Linked DNA regions of Homo sapiens. The protein of the gene in region 2 interacts with the protein of the main gene of each other region in a pairwise test. Each region holds a gene or a part of one and is shown on either strand. Other genes may lie near its edges.

What was found. The genes of interacting proteins can lie anywhere in the genome.
Region 1: the proteins of MAST1 (region 2) and ELAVL3 interact in a two-hybrid assay, tested with the Homo sapiens proteins (one study listed by BioGRID and IntAct).

Annotation. Positions count from the first base shown.
Region 1 is NC_000019.10:11,450,826-11,457,046, forward strand, and holds the end of ELAVL3 (ELAV-like protein 3), read right to left. Parts: intron 4,053-6,221; coding exon 3,701-4,052; 3' UTR 501-3,700; downstream 1-500. UniProt on the Homo sapiens protein: RNA-binding protein that binds to AU-rich element (ARE) sequences of target mRNAs, including VEGF mRNA. May also bind poly-A tracts via RRM 3. May be involved in neuronal differentiation and maintenance.
Region 2 is NC_000019.10:12,841,508-12,849,305, reverse strand, and holds part of MAST1 (microtubule-associated serine/threonine-protein kinase 1), read right to left. Parts: intron 5,778-7,798; coding exon 5,699-5,777; intron 2,017-5,698; coding exon 1,856-2,016; intron 1,695-1,855; coding exon 1,619-1,694; intron 1,459-1,618; coding exon 1,249-1,458; intron 1-1,248. UniProt on the Homo sapiens protein: Microtubule-associated protein essential for correct brain development. Appears to link the dystrophin/utrophin network with microtubule filaments via the syntrophins. Phosphorylation of DMD or UTRN may modulate their affinities for associated proteins.

The DNA of each region.
Region 1 (6,221 bases), 1.4 Mb from region 2:
AAAGGAGCTTGCCCTCCCTGGGCCCCCCACCTTGGTGACTCGCCCCACCACCCCCAGCCCTGTCCCTGCCACCCCTCCTAGTGGGGACTAGTGAATGACTTGACCTGTGACCTCAATACAATAAATGTGATCCCCCACCCAAACTTGTCTGTGTCTGCCTCGCTTTGCTGGGGTGTGGACCGGGGTGTGGGCAGGGGTTGAGCGCAGGGGACGCAGCTTTCTGCAGATCCCACCCGGGCCTCCCCCACCATCTGGGGATCACTCCTGAAGATACCAGGTGGATGGACCCTGGACCATTTCTGTCTTGAGCATCCATCCGGGCCCGTGTCCCACCTTCCCTGGGTCTCATCTGTGCTCTGTGGAGGCCAAGGGTTCCCTCCCGGGGCCAAAGCCCCTGCTGCAGACAGACCCAGGCCCAGAGAAGGACGGGGGCCTGGGCGCTACTACACAGGCTGCTCCTGCGTGCTCCCCGCGCAGCGGTGCAGAGATCACCCAAGGCCTTAAGATTCTGAACTTTTATTTTCTGGCATGAAAAGTACAAATAATTAAACAATTCCATGTAAAAGTCTGTTACCGCGGCCAGGCCTGTGATCCCGGTAATAAATAGTCTAAACGCAACGCGAAGTGTTCTTGTTGGGTTTTTTTTTTTTTTTTGTCTTTTGTTTTGTCTTTTTTTTTTTTTTTTTTTTTACAGTTTTTTATCACCTCCAACATGGACTCTGTCGTGATTTGAAACCTTCCGAATAAATAACAGGATGAAGGGAGGGGTGGAGGGGCTGAGCCCCCTCCCCCCTGGCCTGGCCCCTGCCCCCCAGGGACGTGGAAGCCCCAAGTCCCCCTCGCCTGGGAGCCCCGGCCTGGCCCCCTGCGGGGAGGGGCTGGCCTCCAGGGAGGGGGCCTGGCTGGGCTGAGTTTTGTGTTTTAGAAAAAGAAGTCCCCTCCCAGTCTTGGGGGTGGCAGGGGCCTAGGCCTCGGTGGGGGGGGGGTGTGTGGGGAGGTGCCCCCTCTCTGGAGCCTGGCCCCCCCCAGGGTGGGGGACAAACCCAGCCCTTATTGCTCGGACGCCCTGCTGCAAGCTTCCCACGCGGACGTGCGTGTTCCCGAATGCAGAGGGCGGAGGGGAGAGAGCCCCAAGAGACAGCAGGGGAGAGGGGTCCCTGCCCTGCTGCAGGGGAGAGGAGAGAGGGCAGGGAGGACTTAAAACCACGAGAATAAATAGGTTCGTGTATCAAGAACAAGCTAGGGATTTCACCAGCTAAATAGGACTGAAAAAATTCTCAAGACAAGAGCAAAAAGAATCCCATTGGTGACCTGGACGTCGCTGGCCGTGGGGACTGTCCCGCAGAGCACACGCCCCCGCGTGCCACTCGGCTACCATTACTGTTATTAATAATTATTATTACTTTAATGATTCCACTTCCCCTTTTATAAATAAATTAGGCATAACCATGTCTCGGCAAAACTTAAAGAAACAAAGAGAACATTGTCGTTCCTTTAACTTGCAAACCGGATGAAGTAACAGAAATATACACGGATGTCCTTACAGGGCAACGAGGAGAATAAATAGTTAACATAGCAATAAGTTAAAACTACAAGAAGCTAAATTCAGCAAAAAAGTACAAGAAAGTTAACTGGTGCCAGTTTATGTCTTTTTTTTTTTTCCTTTTTTTTTTTTAAATCTCTTCTGTGTGTTTTCTTTTTTTGTTGCTTTTTTTTCCTCTTCTGTTTGTGTTTTTTTGTCGCTTTTTTGATTTTTTTCTTTTTTGTTCCTTGCAGCAGAAGCTCCACAGACGTTTAATAACAACACCGGGAGGGGTGGGGGAGAGAGAGCTGGACAGTCAGATGGGGGCGCCATAGCCAGACACCAAACGTGGGGACACCGGGGGAAGGCAACTTAACTATAGCTAAAGTCGGGGGTTTTGCAATTCTCAGTTCCGATGGGGCCGCTGAGTGGGGTGGGGAGCGGTGCGAGGGCTCCCAGGGGCTCCGGCCTGTGGCTTCTGTTGGAATTTTTTTTTTTTAAAGAAAGAAAACTAGGGCGATGCAATGTCCAGACAGAAGCCGGGGGCCGGGGCTCGAGATCGGGGGCTGTGTCCACTGCAATCTGGAAAGACGAAAAACCCAACAAACCGAAAGGGGATAGGTAGGTGACAAGTGGACGGGAAAGGAGTGTGGGGCTGGGCCTTTGGGCCCATCCACCCCACCCTGGGCCTGGCGGGGAGTGCCGGGGTCTTGCTGCCGGGGAGGCCCAGTCCTGGTGGGGGAGGCTCAGGGCTGGGCCTCTCCCTCAGCTGTGTGGGCCAAGGCCTCGGCCCAGGGGGAGGCTGAGCCCCGGGGACAGGGGTGTCCTTTGGCCTCAAGTGTTGTGGGGGGGGGGGCTGCCTCCAGCCCACCGTGACGCCAAGGTGGAACGAGGTATCGTGTGTCTCAATGCATGTGCGCTGCGTGTGCACGCCTGTGTTCGTGGGCGCCAAGGAGACCGCTGGGGGTCCAGGAGAGATCTCTGCAGAGAACCTGGGGGCCAGGGCGAGGGGGCCGAGAGGGTGAGGGAGCGTCTGGGGCAGGGTCTGGGGTGGGACCTCCTGCCTGGGCCTGTGGGATGCTATGGGCATATGTCTGCGTGTTCCTGGGTGGTGTTTGTGTTTCTCCGTGACCTGGTGTCCAAATTTGATGTCCAAATATCTATCGCTACATTCACGTGTGCACGTGGACAGGTGGATGGATTCGTGTGCCCACATCTGTGGTCTGTGTCCACATGGACGTAGCCCCAGCTTCTGTCTCTTTCTGTCTATCCCTGTCCACGTGTCTGAGTTTGGCCAACCAGTCCCTTAACGTGTCTGGGGCATGTCGCTGTGTCCGTCTGCGTCTGTCCGTGTGTCCCCGTGGTGTGACTGTCTGCGTGGTTGTTTCTCTGTGTGGCCCCGTGGGCTGCTAGCCCCTAAGCCCTGCTCCCTGGGCCCCCCCCACCCCCGCCCCAGTTGGTAAACATAACCTGCCAAAATATTTTCTTTTTTTTTTTTTGTCTTTTTTTGTGTTTTTTTTTTTCAAGTTCAAGAATCCCCAGTAAAAATTCTCCACGAGGTCTTTTTCCCTTTTTACAAAAATAGAGTTTTTCTTCCCCTCCCACCCCCCTTTTTTTTTCATTTTGTTTCTGCTTCCAGCCCCACTGCCTGCTCCCCCGCATTCCACCAGGGGGCACTGGGCCGGGGGTGCCCACACCCCTCCTCACGGTTCGCTTTTTTGGGGATTTTTAAACCTGTTCCTCCTACCCCAGGCCCCACCTAGGTGCTGGGGAGGCCTGGGCAAGGGGGTCTGGGAGGGCACCCCCTGGAGCCCCCCAAGCCATCCCATCGGGGGTGGTCGAGGGTGGGGGTGGGGGCACATCTCTGCATTCTTTTTAGCCGAAAAAAGAAACAAAAACCTTCACCATGAACCAAACCAAGACGAGAGAGTGAACAGCCCAGCCTGGGGTGGGGGCAGGAGGATGGGGCGGGGGATCCCCGGGCACCCCCCCAATTCCCTGCAGACCCTCCCACCCCAGAGTGCTCACCCTGTGGCTTCCGCAGGGACGTGGGGCCCTCGCGTCGTCCGTGGGGCTGCCTGTGCTGTCTCTCTTGGGCCCCTTCTCTCTCTCTCTCTCTCTTTCTCTCTCTCTCTCTCTGCTGCCCGGGGAGGGGGTGGGAGGGCAGGCGGGGTGGGCTCACGCCTTGTGCTGTTTGCTGGTCTTGAAGGAGACCTGCAGCACGCGCTCGCCCAGGCGATAGCCGTTCAGGCTGGCGATGGCCATGGCCGCCTCGTCATAGTTGGTCATGGTCACGAAGCCGAAACCCTTGCACTTGTTGGTGGTGAAATCACGGATGACCTTGACGTTGGTGACTGCCCCAAAAGGCCCGAACAGCTGCCACAGCACGCTCTCGTCTGCCTCCGGTGACAGGTTGTACACGAAGATGCACCAGCCGGCGCCCGCCGCGCCCCCCGACAGGCCCACGCCCGCCAGGCCGCTCATACCATCGATGGCGATCGGCGAGAACCTGGCGATGAGCGACAGGGGACTACTTTGGGGGTCACGCGGGCTCTGCCCTGACCCCCCGCATGCTTCTGACCCCGTTGTGACCCTTCACACCTTTATGACCCCTGACTGTGCCATGACCTTGGAATGGTGTGACCCCTGCAATGCAATTTTTTTTTTTAGAGACACGGTCTCGCTCTGTCACCCAGGCTGGAGTGCAGTGGTGCAATCATGGCTCACTGCAGCTTTGACCTCCTGGGCTCAAGCAAACCTCCCGCCTCAGCCTCCTGAGCAGCTGGGACTGTAGGCAGGCGCCCTCACACCCAGCTAATTTTTTTTATGATTTGTGGTGACACAGTCTCACTATGTTGCTTAGGCTGGTCTCGAACTCTCAGGCTCAAGCAATCCTCCTGCCTTGGCTTCCCAAGTAGCTGGGACTACAGGTGCACCACTATGCCCCACTAATTTTTTTTTTTTTTTTTCTGAGACGGGGTCTTGCTCTGTTGCCCAGGCTGGAGTGCAGTGGGATGATCTCAGCTCACTGCAACCTCTGCCTCCTAGGTTCAAGCGATTGTCCTGCCTCAGCCTCCCGAGTAGCACCTGCCACCACGCCCAGCTAATTTTGTATTTTTAATAGAGATGGGGTTTCTCCATGTTGATCAGGCTGGTCTCGAACTCCCGACCTCAGGTGATCCGCCCGCTTCGACCTCCCAAAGTGCTGGGATTACAGGCATGAGCCACCGCACCCAGCCATGCCCCGCTAATTTTTAAAAATTTTTGTAGAGGTGGGGTCTCGCTGCGTTAGCCAGGCTGGTCTCGAACTCCTGGGCTCAAGCAATCCTACCACCTTGGAGTTCCAAAGTGCTGAAATTACAGGTGTGAGCCACTGCACCCGGCTTTCCTTTTCAAATCATATATTTATTATCATCAACTTCATCTTCCCTGCAAGAGTTTGTTCCAGCCCCTGAACAACACCTAGTAAGCACTTGGGAGGTGTCTGTTGAATGAATTAATGAAAGGACAGAATTGGCTCCACTCACATTCCTCACTGGCAATCCCGCCCTTGGATTAAACCCCTCAGCTGGGAAGGGAGGACCCAAGGGCCTGAACCATTCAATCCTGACCACGAGGAACAAACTACTCGCTCCTTCTGGCCCTCTTTGCACAGGCTTTTCCCACTGCTAGGAACTCCCTTTCCACTCTGCCTTTGTGTGGATGTTGCCTCAGATGGGACTGGGGGGTCTCTGCTGCTGGGTCTCCGTCACCCCTTCTTTTTTTTTTTTCTTTTTGAGACGGAATCTCACTCTGTCGCCCAGGCTGGAGTGCAGTGGCACGATCTCAGCTCACTGCAACCTCCGCCTCCTGGGTTCAAGCAGTTCTCTGCCTCAGCCTCCCGAGTAGCTGGGATTACAGGCGCCTGCCACCGTGCCCAGCTAAATTTTTGTATTTTTAGTAGAGATGGGGTTTCACCATCTTGGCCAGGCTGGTCTTGGACTCCTGACCTCGTGATCCGCCTGCCTCGGCTTCCCAAAGTGCTGGGATTACAGGCGTGAGCCACCGCGCCCGGCCTCTGTTACCCCTTCTACTTCACAGCTTTCATCACCATTCATTTCTCTGTCTCCTCCCCCACTAGACTCAGACTGAGATCTTCTTTTACATTTTTTAATTATTTTTTTTTTTTTGAGATGGAGTTTCGCTCTTGTTGCCCAGGCTGGAGTGCAGTGGCACGATTTCAGCTCACTGCAACCTCCTCCTTCCATGTTCAAGCGATTCTCCTGCTTCAGCCTCCTGAGTAGCTGGGATTACAGGCATGAGACACCGCGCCCAGCCACATTTTTTAATTTTTGGAGATAAGGTCTCGCTCTGTCACCCAGGCTGGAGTGCAGTGGCACCATCATAGTTCACTGCAGCCTCCAACTCCTAGGCTCAAGCGATCCTCCCGCCTCAGCCTCCTGAGTAGCCTGAACTACAGGCATGCACCACCGTATCAGGCTAATCCTTAAAAAAAAATTGTAGAGAAGGATCTCACTATGTTGCCCAGGCTGATCTTGAACTCCTGGCCTCAAGTGCTCCTTGCCCCTCAGCCTCCCGAAACACTGGGAGCACAGGCGAGAACCACCACGTCTGGCTTTGATGTCACATCTCTCAATGGCCATGCTACTCCAAGACCCAGGCAAACAAGGCTAAGCCTGCAGCCCTGGGGGTGAGCTGG
Region 2 (7,798 bases):
ATCCTCCCATCTCAGCCTCCTAAGTAGCTAGCTGGGACTACAGGTGCATGCCACTGCAAAGGGACATTCAAGCATCAATTTACCCAACATTTATTGAGTACCTACTGTGTGCTGGGTATTGTTCCAAACAGCAGGGACACAGCAGTGGACAGAACAGACAACTCCACCCCCCCACCCTCACCAACTATGGGGCTGACATTGGAGAAGGATAGACATGAAATAAAATAAGCAAAAATACACAGTATGATGGATGGTGCTGAGTGTCAAGGAGAAACTGAGGAGAAAGTGGGTGATAAATGTGAGTAGAGTTTAATATTTTATTTTATTTCATTTATTTATTTATTTTTGAGACAGAGTTTCACTCTTGTTGCTCAGACTGGAGTGCAATGGTGTGATCTCGGCTCACCGCAACCTCCGACTCCCAGGTTCAAGCGATTCTCCCGCCTCTGCCTCCCAAGTAGTTGGGATTACAGGCGCCCACCACCACGCCCAGCTAATTTTTGTATTTTTAGTAGAGACGGGGTTTCGCCATGTTGGCCAGGCTGGTCTCGAACTCCTGACCTCAGGTGATCCACTTGCCTCAGCCTCCCAGAGTGCTGGGATTACAGGCCTGAGCCACCGCACCCGGCTAAGTTTAATATTTTATTTTATTTTATTTTATTTACTATTATTATTTTTTGAGACGGAGTCTCGCTCTGTCGCCCAGGCTGGAGTACAGCGGCGCAATCTCGGCTCACTGCAAGCTCCGCCTCCCGGGTTTACGCCATTCTCCTGCCTCAGCCTCCCGAGTAGCTGGGACTACAGGCGTCCGCCACCACGCCCGGCTAATTTTGTGTGTGTGTGTGTTTTTAGTAGAGACGGGGTGTCACCGTGTTAGCCAGGATGGTCTCGATCTCTTGACCTCGTGATCCGCCCCCCTCGGCCTCCCAAAGTGCTGGGATTACAGGCCTGAGCCACCGAGCCCGGCCGAGTTTAATATTTTAAATGACTGGGGACCGCCTAAGAAGCCACCTGAAAAGGTGACATTTGAGTAAAGACCTAAGGGAAATGAGCGAGGTGAAATTCCTGCCTCTTCAGTCGGTCAGACCTAGGGAAGGGACCACTTCCACCCCTGAGTCCTCAGCTCCACGCCAGTGCCTGGAACGTGGTAGGAGCTCCCTGAATGTATGTGGGGTGAAGAAAGGGGTGCATTGGGCACAATCTGGCGGTGCTGAGCCTGAGATCAGCCCGGCCTCCGCGTGCACTCACGTCTTGAAGGAGCTTCTCCAGGTTCTCCTGCAATTCATAGAAGTAGACCGTGGTGATGAGGCCGTCACGGGACTTGGTCAGGCAGTCCCGGGCCAGCTCGATGATCTGGTGGTGGATGAAGCTGAGCACGCCATCGGCCAGAGGCAGAACGCTGTCGGGTTCGTAGGCGCGGGTAAAGTCGCGCAGCTTCTCCTCCATCTGCGCAGTGGCCTGCGGGAGGGACGGAGGAGGGGCGCGGGGCTGTGCCCGAAGGCTGCGGCCGCCAGGAGCCTGCGCTGCGCACCGAGGCCGCCAGGGGGCGCGCGGGGATAAGGCGAGCGAGAGTGCAGGCCGCCTGGTCACCCCGTGACCGCCTCGGGTCCCACCTCACCTTCGGGAACCTCTCCTTGTAGACGTGATTCATCATCACGATCTCGTTGTCGTAGGAGGAGGGGGAGCGCCCGGGGCTGCGGGGAGAGAAGCCCATTTTGTCGAGTCCTCTGCCTCCAAGCCCGCAGAGAGCCCCCGCCCCAAGATGTAACCCTTTTATTCGCGGGGACAGGGGTCTCTCTAAGCACAAGTCCTAAGACCACTAGCTTGGTACGAAGGAGGAGGGATGCCTGCCCACCTGAGGCTCCGTGAGCGGGGCCGCACGGCTGGGGAGCGACGGCCACCATCCTCGTCTGTGATGCTCTCGGTGCTCCCGAAGTGTTTGGAGAGGAAGTGGAGCTCGTCCACCGTGGGCTGGTAGGGCAGCTGGTGAAGGCGCTCCTGGGAGGAGCAGGAGGACTGGGGACAGGGGCAGGGCCGGGGTCAGAGCCACCATGGGCCCCCCAACAGCTCAGGACCCTGAGCTGGGACTCCCAAAGCCGATGGGGTCACTGGGCAAGGCCAGGATCAGGACCTGATTTACGATCCTTGGATCCTAGGATCTTGGCTGGGACTCTTGGCCACAGACAGGTGGACAGGGACAGACAGGGGTGGAGACAGTGAGTCTGTTAAAGCTTGGGTCAAGTCATGAGCCTCCTCTGTTCAGAACCCTTGGTGGCTCCCACCTTACTCAGGGTGAACACCCAAGTCCTTCCCCAGTTATACAAGGTCCTGCCTCATCCTGCCCTGGGTCCCTGCCGTGGATTTTTCTCACTCTCCTGCTTACTTCCTCTGCTCCAGCTACAGTGGCCTTCTTTTTTTTTTTTTTTTTTTTTTTTGAGATGGAGTTTCGTTCTTGTTGCCTAGTTTGGAGTGTGATCTCAGCTCACTGCAACCTCCGCCTCCCGCGTTCAAGCGATTCTCCTGACTCAGCCTCCTAAGTAGCTGGGATTACAGGTGCCTGTCACCACGCCTGGCTAATTTTTTGTATTTTTAGTAGAGACAGTGTTTTACCATGTTGGCCAGGCTGGTCTTGAACTCCTGACATCAGGTGATCCACCTGCCTCTGCCTCCCAAAGTGCTGAGATTACAGGCACAAGCCACCGCACCCAGCCTAGTGGCCTCCTTGATGGTCCTTGGACAAGCCAGGCAAGCTCCTTCCTCAGGGCCTTTGCATTAGCTATTCTTTCTGCTTGGAACACATCTACTATGGATCCCTCCTTCTCATCCTTCAAATTTTTGCTTCAATGTCACCCCTCGGGAAGACCTCCTCTGAATACACACCCATTATTCCCTATCCCTACTCTATCTTGTTTCCTCTTGCTTTATTATCATTATTATTTTAGAGAAGGGTCTCCACTGAATATGGTGACTCACACCTGTAATCTCAGCACTTTGGGAGGCGAAGGCGGGAGGATCATTTGAGCCCAGGAGTTTGAGACCAGCCTGGGCAACATAGTGAAACTGTGTCTCTATTTATTAAAATTATTTAAAGTTAAAAAGAGAGAGAGACACGGTCTCCTTGTGTCACCCAGGCTAGAGGGATGTAGTACAATCATGGCTCACGGAAGCCTTGAACTCCTGGGCTAAAGTAATCTTCCCCCCTCTGCCTTCTGTGTAGCTGGGACTACACCATGCTTGGCTAATTCTTTTTTGCAGAGACAGGGTCTCTCTATGTTGCCCAGGCTGGCTTCCAACTCCTGGCTTCAAGCAATACTCCCACTTTGGCCTCTCAAAGTTCTGGGACTGAGGGCAGGGCTCGGTGGCTCACGCCTGTAATCCCAGCACTTTGGGAGGCTGAGGCGGGCAGAAAAACTGAGGTCAGGAGTTCTAGACCAGCCTGGCCAACAGGGTGAAACCCCGTCTCTACTAAAAATATAAAAAAATTAGCCAGGCATGGTGGTGGGCACCTGTAATCCCAGCTACTCGGGAGGCTGAGGCAGGAGAATTGCTTGAACCCAGGAGATGGAGGTTGCAGTGAGCCGGCACGGTGCCATTGCACTCCAGGCCTGGGCGACAGAGTGAGACTCCATCTCAAAAAAAAAAAAAAAAAAAAATTGCTGGGTCACAGGCATGAGCCACTATGCCTGGCTCTCCTCTTGCTTTATTTTATTTTTTTTTATTTCGAGACAGGGTGTTTCTCTCTCCCCCAGGCTGGAGTGCAGTGGCTCGACCTCCACTCACTGCAACCCCCACCTCCTGGGCTCGAGCAATCTTTCCATCTCAGCCTCCTGAGTAGCTGGGACTTCAGGCACAAGCCATCACACCTGGCTAATTTTTTTTTTTTTTTTTTTTTTTGTAGAAACAGGGTTTCATCACGTTGCTCAGGTTGGTCTCAAACTCCTGGGCTCAAGCAATCCTCCCACCTCAACCTCCCGTAGTGTTGGGAATACAGGTGTGAGCCACCATGCCTGGTCATATAGCTTTCACCCAGGCTGGAGTGCAGTGGTGCAGTCTTGGCTCACTGCAACCTCCAGTTCTCAGGTTCAAGCAATTCTCCCTGCCTCAGCCTCCTGAGTAGCTGGGATTACAGGCATCCATGACCACGCCTGGCTCATTTTTGTATTTTTACTAGAGACAGGGTTTCACCATGTTGGCCAGGCTGGTCTCGAACTCCTGACCTCAAATGATCCACCCGCTTCAGCCTCCCAAAATGCTAGGATTATAGGCATGAGCCACCGCGCCCGGCCAGAATGATATTTTTAAACATCACATTGCTCACTCCTCTGGTTAAAATTCCCCACCCCATCCATCTCTTTTATTTTTTTAATTAGTGTGCATTATCTATAGCCTACATAATCACAATTTCAAATGGTTCAAACTGAAATTTTAGTACAATTTAATATAAAGAAATAAAACCATTCCATGGCTTCCCCACTGGATTTAGAATAAAATCTCCCTTGCTGCCCTGGCTGACAAGGTTCCAGCCTGATCAAGGTCACTGCCTGCATCATCTCTATTCCTCCCCCGCATCCCAAATTTTCAGCCCCACAAAGCTACTTTCAACTTTTCAAATGCTGCAAGTTCTGTGGCCTCTAGAGGTTTGCACATGCTCTTCCCCTTCCTGGAACACTCTTCTCCCTTCTCTTCCATCTGCCAAACTCCTGCTGGTCTGTTGTCTTGGTTTCAATGTCACCTCCTCCAGGAAGCCTTCCTTGACAACCCCCCAATCTGAGTCACATGCCTCTCCCCTATCACCTCACCTTGTGCTACTTGCATCAAAGTTCTGACCATTCTATTTTGTGAATGCCTTCTTACTGGCTTGTCTTCCCCCATGAGGGCTGCGTGAATATTTACACTCTGGCCCAGCTTGCAGAACCCGCCTACCACATGACAATCTCATGACAAATGTCTGCTGAACATCATGCCAATGGCTGGATAAGGGAACTATGGGCATGGATAGAAAAGGGAGCAGATGAAGGGACTTTGGGTGTTCCAAGGGGTGAGCAAGTGGGCTCTGGGTGAAAGCTGTGGCCTGGCCCAGCCCAGCTGCTGATATCAGAGTAAATGGCTTAACTCACAGAGCCTTATGTCACCAGCTGTAAATGAGTGAGTCAGAAATGAGTAGGAAGGACCCTCCCAGAAATGTGTTGAGGGCAGAGCATTGGGCTCTGAGTGGGGCGGACCCATAACTCTTTAATAGATGGACAAGTGAACACCTTTGAAGAATGGGGAAACCCAAACTGTCTTTTTTTGCTTTTTTCTTTTGAGACAGGGTCTCACTCTGTCATCCAGACTGGAATGCTGCAGTGCGATCTCAGCTCAACTGTAGCCTATACCTCCCAGACTCCAGCGATCCTCCCGTCTCAGCCTCCCAAATAGTGGGGACCACAGGTGTGCACCACCACGCCCAGATAATTTTTAATTTTTTGTAGGGACAAGGGTCTCCCTATGTTGCCCAGACTGGTCTTGAACTCCTAGGCTCAAGCAATCCTTCTGTCTTGGCCTCCCAAAGTACTGGGATTACAGGCTTGAGTCACTGAGCCTGGCCCTAAACTGTCATCAAGCCCAGCCTGGACTGCTGGCCTGGGTGTGGGTCTTCAGGCTGGAGGGCCCCTGAATTCCTTACCCACCGGCCCACCCACCTACTTTCCACACTCACCGAGACGGTGGAACTGGGCGTGTTGGTGCCATAGCCAGATGAAGGGAGCGAGGCCAGAGACCACCGGCGTCCGTCCGCCCTGGAACCCAGCCAAGGTGCTCAGAGGCCACAAGGCCCCAGCGGTCCCCCAACTCCTCAGGGTGTGGGTGAAGCCACTGGCCAGGGCCAGGGTGGGGGTTGGGGGAATATATCTGCACTCTAAGATTCCTCAAGGCCCTCAGAATCAAGGGGATAAAGAGGGACTCTTCCAGGCAGGCACCGGGAATTGGAGGGAGGATCCGTCTCCACTCTCCTCCCCACGGTCCCCTCTCTTATCATTCAGAGTGGACACCGAGAACTGGAAAAGCCCCCACCCAGTGAAGCCTTTCCAGAGAGATTCTAGAAATTTCCCCCAAGTGAACACTCTCCATGAGAAAGCTCTGAGGGAGACCCTTGGATCTTCTCAGAGAAAAAAGACCCGTCCCACCCCCCAACATGTTCTGACATAGAATATTGTGTCCTTATGCTCTCGTGCACACAGACACAGTCACTGTTGCAGCCAAATCCATTAATGTTGGTGTGACTATCAGGTCAGGCTCACATACTGGCAGTGCACACATTTACACTTCACACACACGAAGACACACACTCACACATGACTCCTCAACACAGACACCCACACGTATTGACTATCCCATCCATGGACCCAAATATCACACTCTCACACACTAATGCACAATCACGCGTGCAAGACCAGACATGCACTCACCTATAGACACATGTGCTTCCACTCAGTACTCACACTCGGACACACAGACTCACCCAAACATACTCCACACTTCCACATTCACACAGATGCACGTTCCAGACACCCACGCTCACTACCACACATTGAAACTTGCACACAGCGACACACTCATTCACACTCGCACGCAGATGCACACACACAGGGACACACATCGGCGCGTGCTCATGTGAGTGCACAACACACATTAGCATGTGCATGTGTAAGCGTGTGGCTGTGAGACAGTAAACTGGACGGGCGCGGTGGCTCATGCCTGTAATCCTAGCATTTTGGGAGGCCGAGGCGGGTGGATCACCTGAGGTCAGAAGTTCGAGACCAGCATGACCAACCTGGTGAAACCCCATCTCTACTAAAAATACAAAAATTAGCCGGGCGTGGTGGCAGGCGCCTGTAATCCCAGCTACTTGGGAAGCTGAGGCAGGAGAATCGCTTGAACCCAGAAGGCGGAAATTGCAGTGAGCCGAGATCCCGCCATTGCACTCCAGCCTGGGCAACAGAGCGAGACTCTGTCTCAAGAAAAGAAAAAAAAAAGAGAGAGAGAGAGAGAGACAGTAAACACTGTGACTCTGTGTTTACTATCTCACAGCCACACACTCACACACGCTTACACCCACACACAGATTGCACGCTCACCTGGAGACATACCTGACTTGCTCCTCTCACATATTCACAGACACTTACAATCCTACAGACACATGTTCACACGTTCACATTCGCAGACTCGTGCCATTGCATAGGCACGTAATCCCTCACACAGTGACAATCACACACACACACCAGCACACTTTGCACAGTTACAAGGACACACACACACCCCATTTATTGGACTCCTCCCTTCCTTCTTCCTCCCAGCAGTCCCCTCGCTCAGTCCTCCCCGCTTGCGGATAAACATGTGAGACCCTATCCCAGAGCCTTGTCCTGGCTCTCTATTGCCCTCAGCTAAATTCCATGGTCAATAGGCGGTTCCCCCACTTTCCCAAGGGAGCTGTCTGTCTTCACAGTCTCCTTTGACTCTCACAACACAGCCTTCATCAGCCTTTGCACTGATCCCCATTCTCTGGCCTGCCTGCCCTATTCGACTCAGAGGGTAGAGACAGGACGTCATTGACCCCATACGCCCAGCTCCTAAGAACATAGCAGGTGTTTAGACACCATTTTTAGAATGAATAGAGTTCAAAGAAAAAGAGACAGGCCCAAACTCCCAGAAACGTTTCTCCAGAAAACATCAGAGAAACCTCTCTGCCTCCCCCAGTTTCACCAAAGGCCCATAGAAAATTCATTTAAGGACACCCCAGAAACCCTAAGAGACCCTTGGA